Regions from separate parts of the Homo sapiens genome. Here region 2 is linked to region 1. Evidence: fine-mapped expression QTL. A gene starts in region 1. The other region holds a variant in brackets. All regions are shown on one strand. Distances are from middle to middle.

What was found. PIP is the estimated chance that this variant, and not a neighbour inherited with it, causes the effect.
Region 2: its variant is the best candidate, but not a certain one, in a credible set for the expression of TMEM254 in whole blood (TOPMed, PIP 0.70).

The regions. Positions count from the first base shown.
Region 1 is chr10:80,075,663-80,081,043 of GRCh38, reverse strand. TMEM254 (transmembrane protein 254) reads right to left here and starts at 2,379. Exons shown (of 4, transcript NM_025125.4): 1 at 2,258-2,379. The coding sequence starts at 2,344. It overlaps TMEM254-AS1 (TMEM254 antisense RNA 1), which reads left to right and starts at 1,851. Exons shown (of 4, transcript NR_027432.1): 1 at 1,851-2,317.
Region 2 is chr10:80,114,783-80,120,163 of GRCh38, reverse strand. No RefSeq gene overlaps it. Among named protein-coding and RNA genes, the nearest start is that of PLAC9, 15 kb to the left of the region's middle. The variant T/C (reference allele first, on the strand shown) is at 2,984.

The sequences.
Region 1 (5,381 bases):
CAGTGGCACGATCTCGGCTCTCTGTAACCTCCGCCTCGCGGATTCAAACGACTCTCCTGTCTCAGCCTCCAGAGTAGCTGGGACTACAGGTGCATGCCACCACGCCCAGCTAATTTTTGTATTTTTAATACAGACAGAGTTTCACCATGTTGGCCAGGCTGATCTCCAACTCCTGACATCAGGTGATCCGCCCTTCTCGGCTTCTCAAAGTGCTGGGATTACAGGTGTGAGCCACTGCCCATGGCTAATTTTGTGTGTGTGTGTGTGTGTAGAGATGAGGTTTTGCCATGTTGCCCAGGATGGTCTCGAACTCCTGGGCTCAAGCGATTTGCCCGCCTCGGCCTCCCAAAGTGCTGGGATTACAGGGGTGAACCACCATGCCTGGCTGACTCCTATTAATACATTCCACCAAAACCATTATTTTATAAAAGATATTAGCAAATTTTGAGTTTATGTGCTTTGGCTAGTTTCTTTACTGCAGAAACTGGCTCCAGCCAAACCTCTGTTTAATTTAGAATTCCTTTCTCGGCTTTCCCTTTTTGTACGGCTAAAACTGAGAATGATCCACTGCATAGAGATGGAAAATAAGTGAGATAAGGTTGTGACATTTTAATAGCAACTGCTTAATCACATAAATTTTTCGTAATCTTAACTTTCAGCCTCTGTATTGTAACTTCTGTCAGCTAAGACTTTTCTGAGAATAACTCAACAGTTTCAAAATGTATTGTCCCATTCAAATCTTTGTCAAGAGCAGTACTACCTCTCTCACGATGTTGTTTCACATCTGAAAGTTAAATAATGCACAAATATCACTGCATCCTCCCAAACCAAAGGGAAAGGGGAGCATCTGCCAGCTCCACAAGATCCCAATTTGAAGTCCCCAAAGCTTTCCTCCAACTATATTCTAACTAGTCACAGACACTAAATCGTAGAACAGAAATGCACCTTTGAAAATTTTCAGTTCAACACCTCCATTGTACATATGGGGAAATCAGGACATAGGTTGTCAGATTTGACACCAACAAACAACACTGTGGACAAGACAAATCTCCAATCTCCAGGATCTATTGGTATACCCAAATAGCTTCGCCTTCCTTCAAAATTTTACCACCTTATCACTTGACGTTAGGAGTTCGAGGCCAGCCTCACCAATACCCATGTCTACTAAAAACACAAAAAAATAGCTGGGCATAGTGTAATCCCAGCTACAGGTAAAGACATGAGAATCGCTTGAACCTGGGAAGCAGAGGTTGCAGTGAGCCGAGATCGCCCCACTGCACTCCAGCCTGGGTGACAGAGCGAGACTCCGTCTCAAAAAAACACAAAACTACCACCTTAGCCCCCAACCTACTTTTCCACGCATCTTTCTCGTTATCCTTTAAACAGATTATTTCTCAGCCAAACAAACGTCGCTCTTTTTCTAGGTACAGCTTTCTTCTTGCTTCCACACCTATGTCAGAACAGTTATAGCCTCTTTATCCTCCCTTACCACTTAAATCCTACCCATCCTTTAGATTTATCCCCGTTTTCCAAACAATTCCTATTGGCTCAAACATTCTGCTTCGGAAGCCCTATTCTGACTTGGCAGGCCTATGGCAGTCTGTTAACTTGACTTTCCGCTTCGTGAGAGGCTTAGGCTCGGATAACCCGTTAGTAACCATGCAGAGGTGAGGACCCAAAGACAGGAACACTAGAAAGCAGAAACTATCCTAAGAGCCCACCGAATTTCCGCTTACATGAGTAACCGAGACAACCGTCAGATGCGCGTGCGCACAGGCCCCGTTCCCAGAGCTCCCCTCGCCCTACGAGGGCCCGGCGGGCCAAAACAGAGGCCCGCCCCGCCCCACCCCACGCCTCACCGCGAAGTAGCCCAGCCCCAGGACTGTGACCAGAGAGGGCAAGGGTCTTGCTGGACGGAAATAGGCGGTAGCCGCATTGCTGGCCTCCGACTTCACCATCCTCTTGAAAAACCCAGACACAGAGTTGGCTGGGAGCTCCCCAGCCGTCCCCGCCCCCATATAAGAAAAGCCTGGCTAGCCGGTTTCTCAGGGCCCTGGGCGCCCGCCCAAGACCCTGGCGGACCAGTATGCTTGCTCTCATTGCGGAGTCTGGTCCCCTCCCCTCCGCTCCTAGCGCGCGGGAGTCGGGATTGTGCTTGCACGACTTCCCCCGGCCCGCGGCCTGTGAGCCCAGGTCCTGGGGTGAACCGAGCGCTCGCTCGTTCGTCAGACCGTAGCGCTCCAGCGGCTGTCCTTACTGTGTAGTAGCCAAAGCTGAGGGTGATGACTGTGAACCAGAACAGACTGCCTCGCTGAAAGTAGGTCGCGCCGGCTGCCGTAGCCATGGCTGCAACACCTCCCCGGGAGCGCGCTTCAGGACACCGTCGAGCGCGAGCGCGGAGGCAGGGCCGGGGCCGGCCCGCGCTCCCTCGCCATCCCCGCAGGGAGAAGATGGTGCTGGTTGGGAAGTCCCTGAGAGCGAGTCTCCCTGTCTGGCCCCAGTACAGGGGCCTTGGAATCACACCTGGGCTCAGGTCTGGAGGGCTGGTCATCATCTTGTAGGGGAGACACTCCTGTCACTTTTCTGGGTTTAAGATAAAGATGTTCGGGCTGGCGCGGTGGCGTGTCCCTGTAATCTCAGCACGTTGGGAGGCTGAGGTAGAAAGATCCCTTGAGCCCAGGAGTTTGAGACCAGCCCGGGTAACATAGCTAGACTCTGTCTCGAATGAATGAATGAATGAATGAGGTGTTGGAATAAATTCCAGCAATTTGGGAGGCCGAGTCGGGCAGATCACTTGAGGTCAGGAGTTTGAGACCAGCGTGGTCAACATGGTGAAACCCCGTCTGTACTAAAAATACAAAAAATTTGCTGGGCGCGGTGGTGCCTGCCTGTAGTCCCAGCAACTCCAGAGGCTGAGACAAGACTCTCTTGAACCTGAGAGGTGCAGGTTGCAGTGGGCCCAGATCACGCCACTGCACTCCAGCCTGGGCAACACAGCAAGACCCTGTCTCAAAAAAAAAAAAAAAAGATGGTGTTTTACTAAGAGTCTAATTTTTGAAGTTCTCTGTGCTGTGCACCTTGAGAAATAATGCTGTCCTCATTAGTTAAGATGTTTGGAACTATACAGCACCATGGTTATGAGCAGGGACTGTGAAACAGGCTGCCTGGATTTAAGTCCTGGCTCTGTCTCGGCTATTTGTGTAAGCTTAGATTAATTACTTAGCCCGGCTGTGTCTTAGTTTCTGTATCTGTAACATGAGGATATGCCAGTTTTGGGAACCTCAGGGTTTTTAGGGTGGGTTAAATGAGTTGATATCTGTAAAGAAAGCACAGCAGTGTCTGGCCCATAGTGCTTTGTAAGTGTGGGTGATTATCAATACTGCTGAGCCTTTAGCATGTGTGCCAGGCCCTGTGCGAACTGTTGTATCATCAATGAGCTGTGGGAGGTATATGCAGCTGAAGTGTCTGATTAAACACTATTTAATCATAGAAATAGAAAATCATAGAAATAGAAAAACTATTTCACCTGGGCCTTAAAAATGGGTTACTGGCCAAGCGCAGTGGCTCAAGCCTATAATCCTGGCACTTTTGGAGGCCGAGGTGGGTGGATCGCTCAGGAGTTCGAGACCACCCTGGAGAACATGGTGAAACCCTGTCTCTACTAAAATACAAAAAATTAGCTGGGGGTGGTGGCGCGTGTCTATAGTCCCAACTACTTGGGAGGCTGAGGCACGAGAATTGCTTGAGCACCGGAGGCGGAGGTTGCAGTGAGCCGAGATCCAATCACTGCACTTCAGCTTGGGCTATAGAGTGAGACTCCGTCAAAAAAAAAAAAAAAAAGTTACTATACTGTAGCTGGTATTTATTGAACACCTACTATGTTCAAGGCATTGTTCTAAGTACTATACAATAATTAACTAATTTAATTCTTAAAACAATCCTAGGCAGTAAACTATTGTCCTTATTTCAAAGAAGAAGAAACAGCACAGGGTCCTGTCATGCCCAAGTGGGTGAGGAATACTGGAAAACAATTGGCAGCTGAGTGTTCCAGTTCCAGAGAGGGCACTCTGGAACCAACCAAGGTTCTCTTTCCTCATTTTTTACGTGAGTATCTTGGGATATAAAGTCTTAAAGAATGAATTTCAGAATATGTGAGGAAATCCATTTCCCAGGTAGACCACAGTGCTCTTGAATATCAAGATTAACAGTAACAATTGTAACAATTGGTGTTTTCTTAGTCCTTATCATCCTTGATCACACCACCCTCTTTATTCTTCTCCTCCTTCTGAATAACTCCTTGTTTTCTCAGCTTTCCTTTTCTTTCTTCTCTCCTAGAATAAGTTTTGCTTATTATCTTCTTTGTGTTTTCAGTACCTATCAGATTCAATTTTCACCTTCAGCTGACTAAAATAATCTCTTCAGCCCTCACCTCTTCCCAGTTGGTCACCTTTACCAAAGATTACTCACACCTCAAAGACAAGAAGTCCATTATCATTATCCACAGAGTCCATCCTCACCAAGGCTACCCTGTCTGTGGTTTTTTTTTTTTTTTTTTTTTTTTTTGAGATGGAGTTTTGCTCTTGTTGCCCAGGCTGGAGTGCAGTGTTGCGATCTCGGCTCACTGCAACCTCTGCCTCCCCACTTCAAGTGATTCCCCTGTCTCAGCCTCCTGAGTAGCTTGGATTACAGGTGTGCACCACCACGCTTGGCTAATTGTGGAGACGGGGTTTCACCATGTTGGCCAGGCTGGTCTCGAACTCCTGACCTCAGGTGATCTGCCTGCCTCGGCCTCCCAAAGTGTTGGGATTACAAGTATGAGCCACCTCGCCCGGCCTACTCTATGTGAACAGCACTTTCTTTCTACCTTGTACCCAGATTCCTTGCTTTGACTTCCCCCATATCATATAAAGATTGCAGACTAATCAGCTGTCAAGAGTTCTACTGATTGGGTAATACAATATCTAATCCTTCTAGATTAAATCATGGCTTCATCTCCACTGTCTCATGAGTCAGTCACTCCTTCCTACTTCCTGCCACTTCAGCCCACATGCAGTCCCTTTATTGAATCTGTCTGACAAATAACAGGATCATCTTTTTCAAGTACAGTTCTGATCAAGCCTTTACCATACCAAAACTTTTTTTTTTTTTTGAGACAGAGTCTCACTCTATTGCTCAGATTGTAGTGCAATGGCGCAATCTCAGCTCACTGCAACCTTGGCCTTCTGGGTTCAAGTGATTCTCCTGCCACACTCTCTCTAGTAGCTGGGACTACAGTCACATGCCACCACACCCAGCTAATTTTTTGTATTTTTAGTAGAGATGGGGTTTCGCCATGTTGACCAGGCTGGTCTCAAACTCCTGACCTCAGGTGATCCACCTGC
Region 2 (5,381 bases), 39 kb before region 1:
CCATTGACATCAGACTAAAGAATGAATGACCTACCACTACATGCAACATTATGGATGAAAATACAATTGATGAAAGAAATTTTCTCAAAAAATGCTGTATAATACAATTGATATAAAGTACAAACCAAGCAAAATTAATCCATGCCACAAGAACTCAGTATCAATTTCCTGCAAGAGAAATGGGGGGGCTTCTGAGCTGCTGGTAATGTTCTGTCATTTGGTCTGGGTGCTGATTTCATGGGTGTGTTTAATTCTTAAAATGTATATACATGATCCATCAATAAAAAGTTTCTTAAAATATTCATCTCCTTGCCCTAAGCCTCATTTATATCTTTATGTCAACTCAGCTGCTGCACCGACCCCATAAAATGAATACAATAGGACTAACCTCTAAACCTGCTCCGCTTCTCTTCCCTTCCAGACTAGGATTGATATTTTCCTTCCAGGACTGGGACTCTTGTTTAATTTTCTTTTATTCCCTCTTCTTCTTTTTTTTTTTTGAGACGGAGTCTCACTCTGTTGCCCAGGCTGGAGTGCAATGGCGCAATCTCAGCTCACTGCACCTCTATCTCCTGGGTTCAAGCAATTTTCCTGCCTCAGCCTCCCGAGTAGTTGGGATCACAGGTGTGCGCCACCACACCTGTCTAATTTCTGTATTTTTAGTAAAGACAGGGTTTCACCATGTTGGCCAGGCTGGTCTTGAACTCCTAACCTCAAATGATCCACCCCACTTGGCCTCCCAAAGTGCTGGGATTACAGGCGTGAGCCACCGCGCCCAGCTTCCCCCTTCTTTTCACAAGTTTGATTTCTCTCTCTCTCTCTCCCTCTCTTTTCTGCCTAGGACTCTTGATCCAGTCCCACCTGCTGGTGTAGGGAGGGAAGATAGTATAGCCCCAACCAGCTAGGAGGCTGCATAAGTGTAGGGGAGGAAAGTAACTGCCAGGGGCAAGGTAGGAGATGGTGCCATATTCCAGAGTTGAAGGTTAATACCAGCTAATGGTCTTTCCGTTACTGCCTTCCAGGTATTTGCAACAAGGATTAAGGAGGAGAATAAAACTCTAATGCAATAAGCTTCCATCATTTGTAATGAACTAACTTATATTGTCCTTATTGTTAAAAGATTCATTTATTAAAAAGATAAAATCATCAGCCTGGAGTGGCAGCTCATGCCTATAATAGCAGCATTTTGGGAAACTGAGGTGAGAAGATCGCTTAAGGCTGGGAGTTCAAGACCAGCTTGGGCAATATAGTGCAACCCCCTGCTACATCATCATCATCATCATCATCATCATCATCATCATCGTCATTAGCCAGGCATGGTGGCTCATGTATGTAGTTCTAGCTACTCAGGGGGCTGAGTTTGGAGAATCACTTGAGCCCAGGAGGTCAAGGCTTCAGTGAGCCAAGCTTGCATCCCTTCACTCAAGCCTGGGCGACAGAGCAAGACGCTATCTCAAAAAAAAAAAAAAAAGATAAAATCATGACTCTCCAATGGCAGATTATAACTAATTCAAAGGAGAAGTCAGAAAAGCTCAATTATATGGAGCAAAGGAATGTTGAAACACATTCACCAACAGAGCTCAAGCCAGCTTCTTCCAGGGTGGGAAAGGGAAGTCAATTGAACCTCTACTGGCAGGATTAAATGTACAGATCTAGAGCCAAGAATTAGTTTTCATTTCTATCAGTTATCTACATTTTACAAGCTGTAAAATGGCTCCCATGGAATCAAAAGCAGATAAAGTGAAAGGGTGTGCTATAGACAATACTTAATTTTCCATTGAAAGAAAATTTTCCTACACTTTCCCTCTCTTTTGATAAAAAATAATCTCATCTATTCCTGTGTAATTCACCAATAGTAACATATCAAATACACCTATTTATTTCTGGCACCTCTCTTTTCATAAGGGGAAGTAACAAATCTTTTGTGATTTTCAATGGTATGTCTGGGAAAGCTCAGCTATCATTCCTTTTATTTTATTTTATTTCACATTTAGGACTAATTTTGGGAATGCAAAATACAAAATTGTCAGGAGATTTGAATACTTAGTGTAGGATCATAGGCATCTGAGAAGTAGTACTTGCCTACCCATTTGTAAGAGACAATACAACATTTAAAAATAGGCCAGGTGCAGTGGCTCACTCCTGTAATCCCAGCACTTTGGGAGGCCGAGGCAGATGGATCAGCTGAGGTCAGGAGTTTGAGACCAACATGGTGAAAGTCCACCTCTACTGAAAATACAAAAAATTAGCTGGGCGTGGTGGCAGGCACCTGTAATCCCAGCTACTTGGGAGGCTGAGGCAGGAGAATCACTTGAATCCAGGAGGCTGAGATTGCAGTGAGCAGAGATCACATGACTGCACTCCAGCCTGAGCAACAGGAGTGAAACTCTGTCTCTAAAAAAAAAAGAAAATAAATAAAAATAAATAAAAATAAAGATAGAAAATAACATGATCATAAAGAACTTTAGCTCCCTCCTAAATAACAAATCTTGTTTCTTTAAATAACCAAGGGCATAATAAAATCAACATGAAAATCAAAAAATAATTCTGGTAAAACACTGAATCTTTGCTATCTAGGTAGATTTACATAGAAAAAAAGAATAACCCTTCATAGTATAGGTGAAGACAACAAACAGTAAACTAGGGAAACAAGGCCATGAATATTAAACAAAATTTTTTAAGATTGTTAGTAAATTTCATGTGTTAAAATGCATATGATGTGTTTTATATGCATTATATATTATAAAATATTATACATTATATGATAAACCGTATGGTCTTATAAAAGCAAACTTTTATAAGATTTTTTTTTTTTTTTTTTTTTTTGAGACAGAGTCTCCCTCTGTCGCCCAGGTTGGAGTGCAGTGGCGCGATCTCGGCTTCACTGCAAGCTCTGCCTCCTGGGTTCACGCCATTCTCCTGCCTCAGCCTCCTGAGTAGCTGGGACTACAGGCGTCTGCCACCACGCCCGTCTAATTTATTG[T/C]ACTTTTTAGTAGAGACGGGGTTTCACCGTGTTAGCCAGGATGGTCTCAATCTCCTGACCTCGTGATCTGCCCGCCTCCGCCTCCTAAAGTGTTGGGATTACAGGCGTGAGTCACCGCGCCCGGCCCTATAAGATCTTAATAACATTTCATAGTGTCTAACATATTTCAGAATCAAGTATTTTATTTATATATATAATGTGTTACGTGTGTGTATATATATATACACACACATTATATATATAAATATAGATTTAATCGAGACAGGGTCTCACTCTGTCGCACAAGCTGGAGTGCACTGGTGCGATCTCTGTTCACTGCAACCTCCGCCTCTTGGGATCAGGTGATCCTCCCACCTAAGCCTCCCGAATAGTTTGGAACTTACAGACACACACCACCACACCTGGCTACTTTTTGTATTTTTTAGTAGGTTTTCCCATGCTGGCTAGGCTGGACTGGGAACTCCTGGGCTCAAATGATTCGCTGGCCTTGGCCTCCCAAAGTGCTGGGATTACAGGTGTGAGCCACTGCGTCCAGCCCCCAAACTCAGGTATTATAAATCAAAGCAAATAAAATTCACTTCAGGCCAGGCGCATGGCTCATGCCTGTAATCCCAGCACTTAGGGAGGTCAAGGTGGGTGGATCACCTGAGATCAGGAGTTCAAGACCAGCCTGGCCAACATGACGAAACCCTTGTCTCTACTAAAAATACAAAAATTAGCCAGGCATGGTGGTGCATGCCTGTATTTCCAGCTACTCAGGGGGCTGAGGAAGGAGAATTGTTTGAACACGAGAGGCAGAGGTTGCAGTAAGCCAAGATAGTGCCACTGTACTCCAGCCGAGGCAAGAGAGCTAGACGCCATCTAAAAAAAAAAAAAATCATGTCAGCATGCTCTTTTGCATTCTATAGTAAACTCGCCCTTTATTTTAGGACCAATCTCAAGGGGCCCATGAGGTCAGAACTAATTTCATAATACTGCTGAGGTATATTTATTGTACTTCATTCATTGTTGCTATTTTTAAATGAATCATTAAATAAGCTTTCTTAAAAGTTATGTTTTATAGCAGCTGGGCATGGTGGCTCACGCCTGTAATCCCAGCACTTTGGGAGGCCAAAGTGAGTGGATTACCTGAGGAGTTCAAGATCAGCCCGGCCAACATGGTGAAACCCCGTCTCTACTAAAAATATAAAAATTAGGTGGATGTGGTGGCAGGTGCCTGTAGTTCCAGCTACTCAGGAGGCTGAGGCACGAGAATCACTTGAACCTGGGATGTCTTGGGTTCACTGAGCCAAGATCATGCCACCGCACTCCAGCCTGGGTGTCAGAGCGAGATTCCATCTCAAAAAAAAAAAAAAAGTATGTTTTATAGGTATGTGCTGAGAGGAATGAAAAAATGTTTTTTAGAAAGTTATGTTTAAATGTTTAACAGTAAATACTAATAGCTATAATCCACAAAGAAAGCTCTTTGGTGTCCTCAATATGTTGGAGGTGTGTAAAGAGGTTTCACCAAACAAACCAACCACAAAAAACTCCCAAACCCCCTGCCCCAAACCAAATCTGGGTACTTTAAGACAAAACTGCTGCTTTAAGATAAAACTACAGTTCTTTGTTTTCCTTAAAATACAGAAGGCCGGGTGCGGTGGCTCACGCCTGTAATCCAACACTTTGGGAGGCTGAGGTGAGCGGATCACCTGAGGTCAGGAGTTCAAGACCAGCCTGGTCAAAATGGTGAAACCCCATCTCTACGAAAAATACAAAAATTAGCCAGGCATGGTGGCGGGCACTTGTAATCCCAGCTATTTGGGAGGCTGGGGGCAGGAGGATCACTTGAACCTGGGAGGTGGAGGTTGCAGTGAGCCGAGATCATGCCATTGTACTCCAGCCTGGGCAACCAAGAGTGAAACTCTGTCTCAAAAAATATATATAAATAAATAAGGCCGGGTGTGGTGGCTCAGGCCTGTAATCCCAACTCTTAGGGAGGCAGAGGCAGGAGGATAGCTTGAGCCCAGGAGTTTGAGACCTGGCTGGGCAATATAGTGAAACCCTGATCTCCACAAAAAGGAAAAAAAAAGACAAAAAAAACCCCGAAAAACCCACAAGTGTAAAAAAAAAGTATATACACTTAAATTATGCTTCATAATGCATGTTTTAGTCTTTCATTTTTCCTAGAAATTATTTATGTACCCAGCAGATATCCATCAATTAAATGAGTACAAGGTTTTGAGTTACCTAAAGATCTTTGAAATTATTCTAAAGTAGACATACCATGAAAGATAACTTTTTTCTTTTGAGATGGAGTTTCGCTGTGTCACCCAGGCTGGAGTGCAGAGGTGCAATCTCCGCTCACTGCAACCCCCGCCTCCCGGGTTCAAGCAATTCTCCTGTTTCAGCCTCCTGA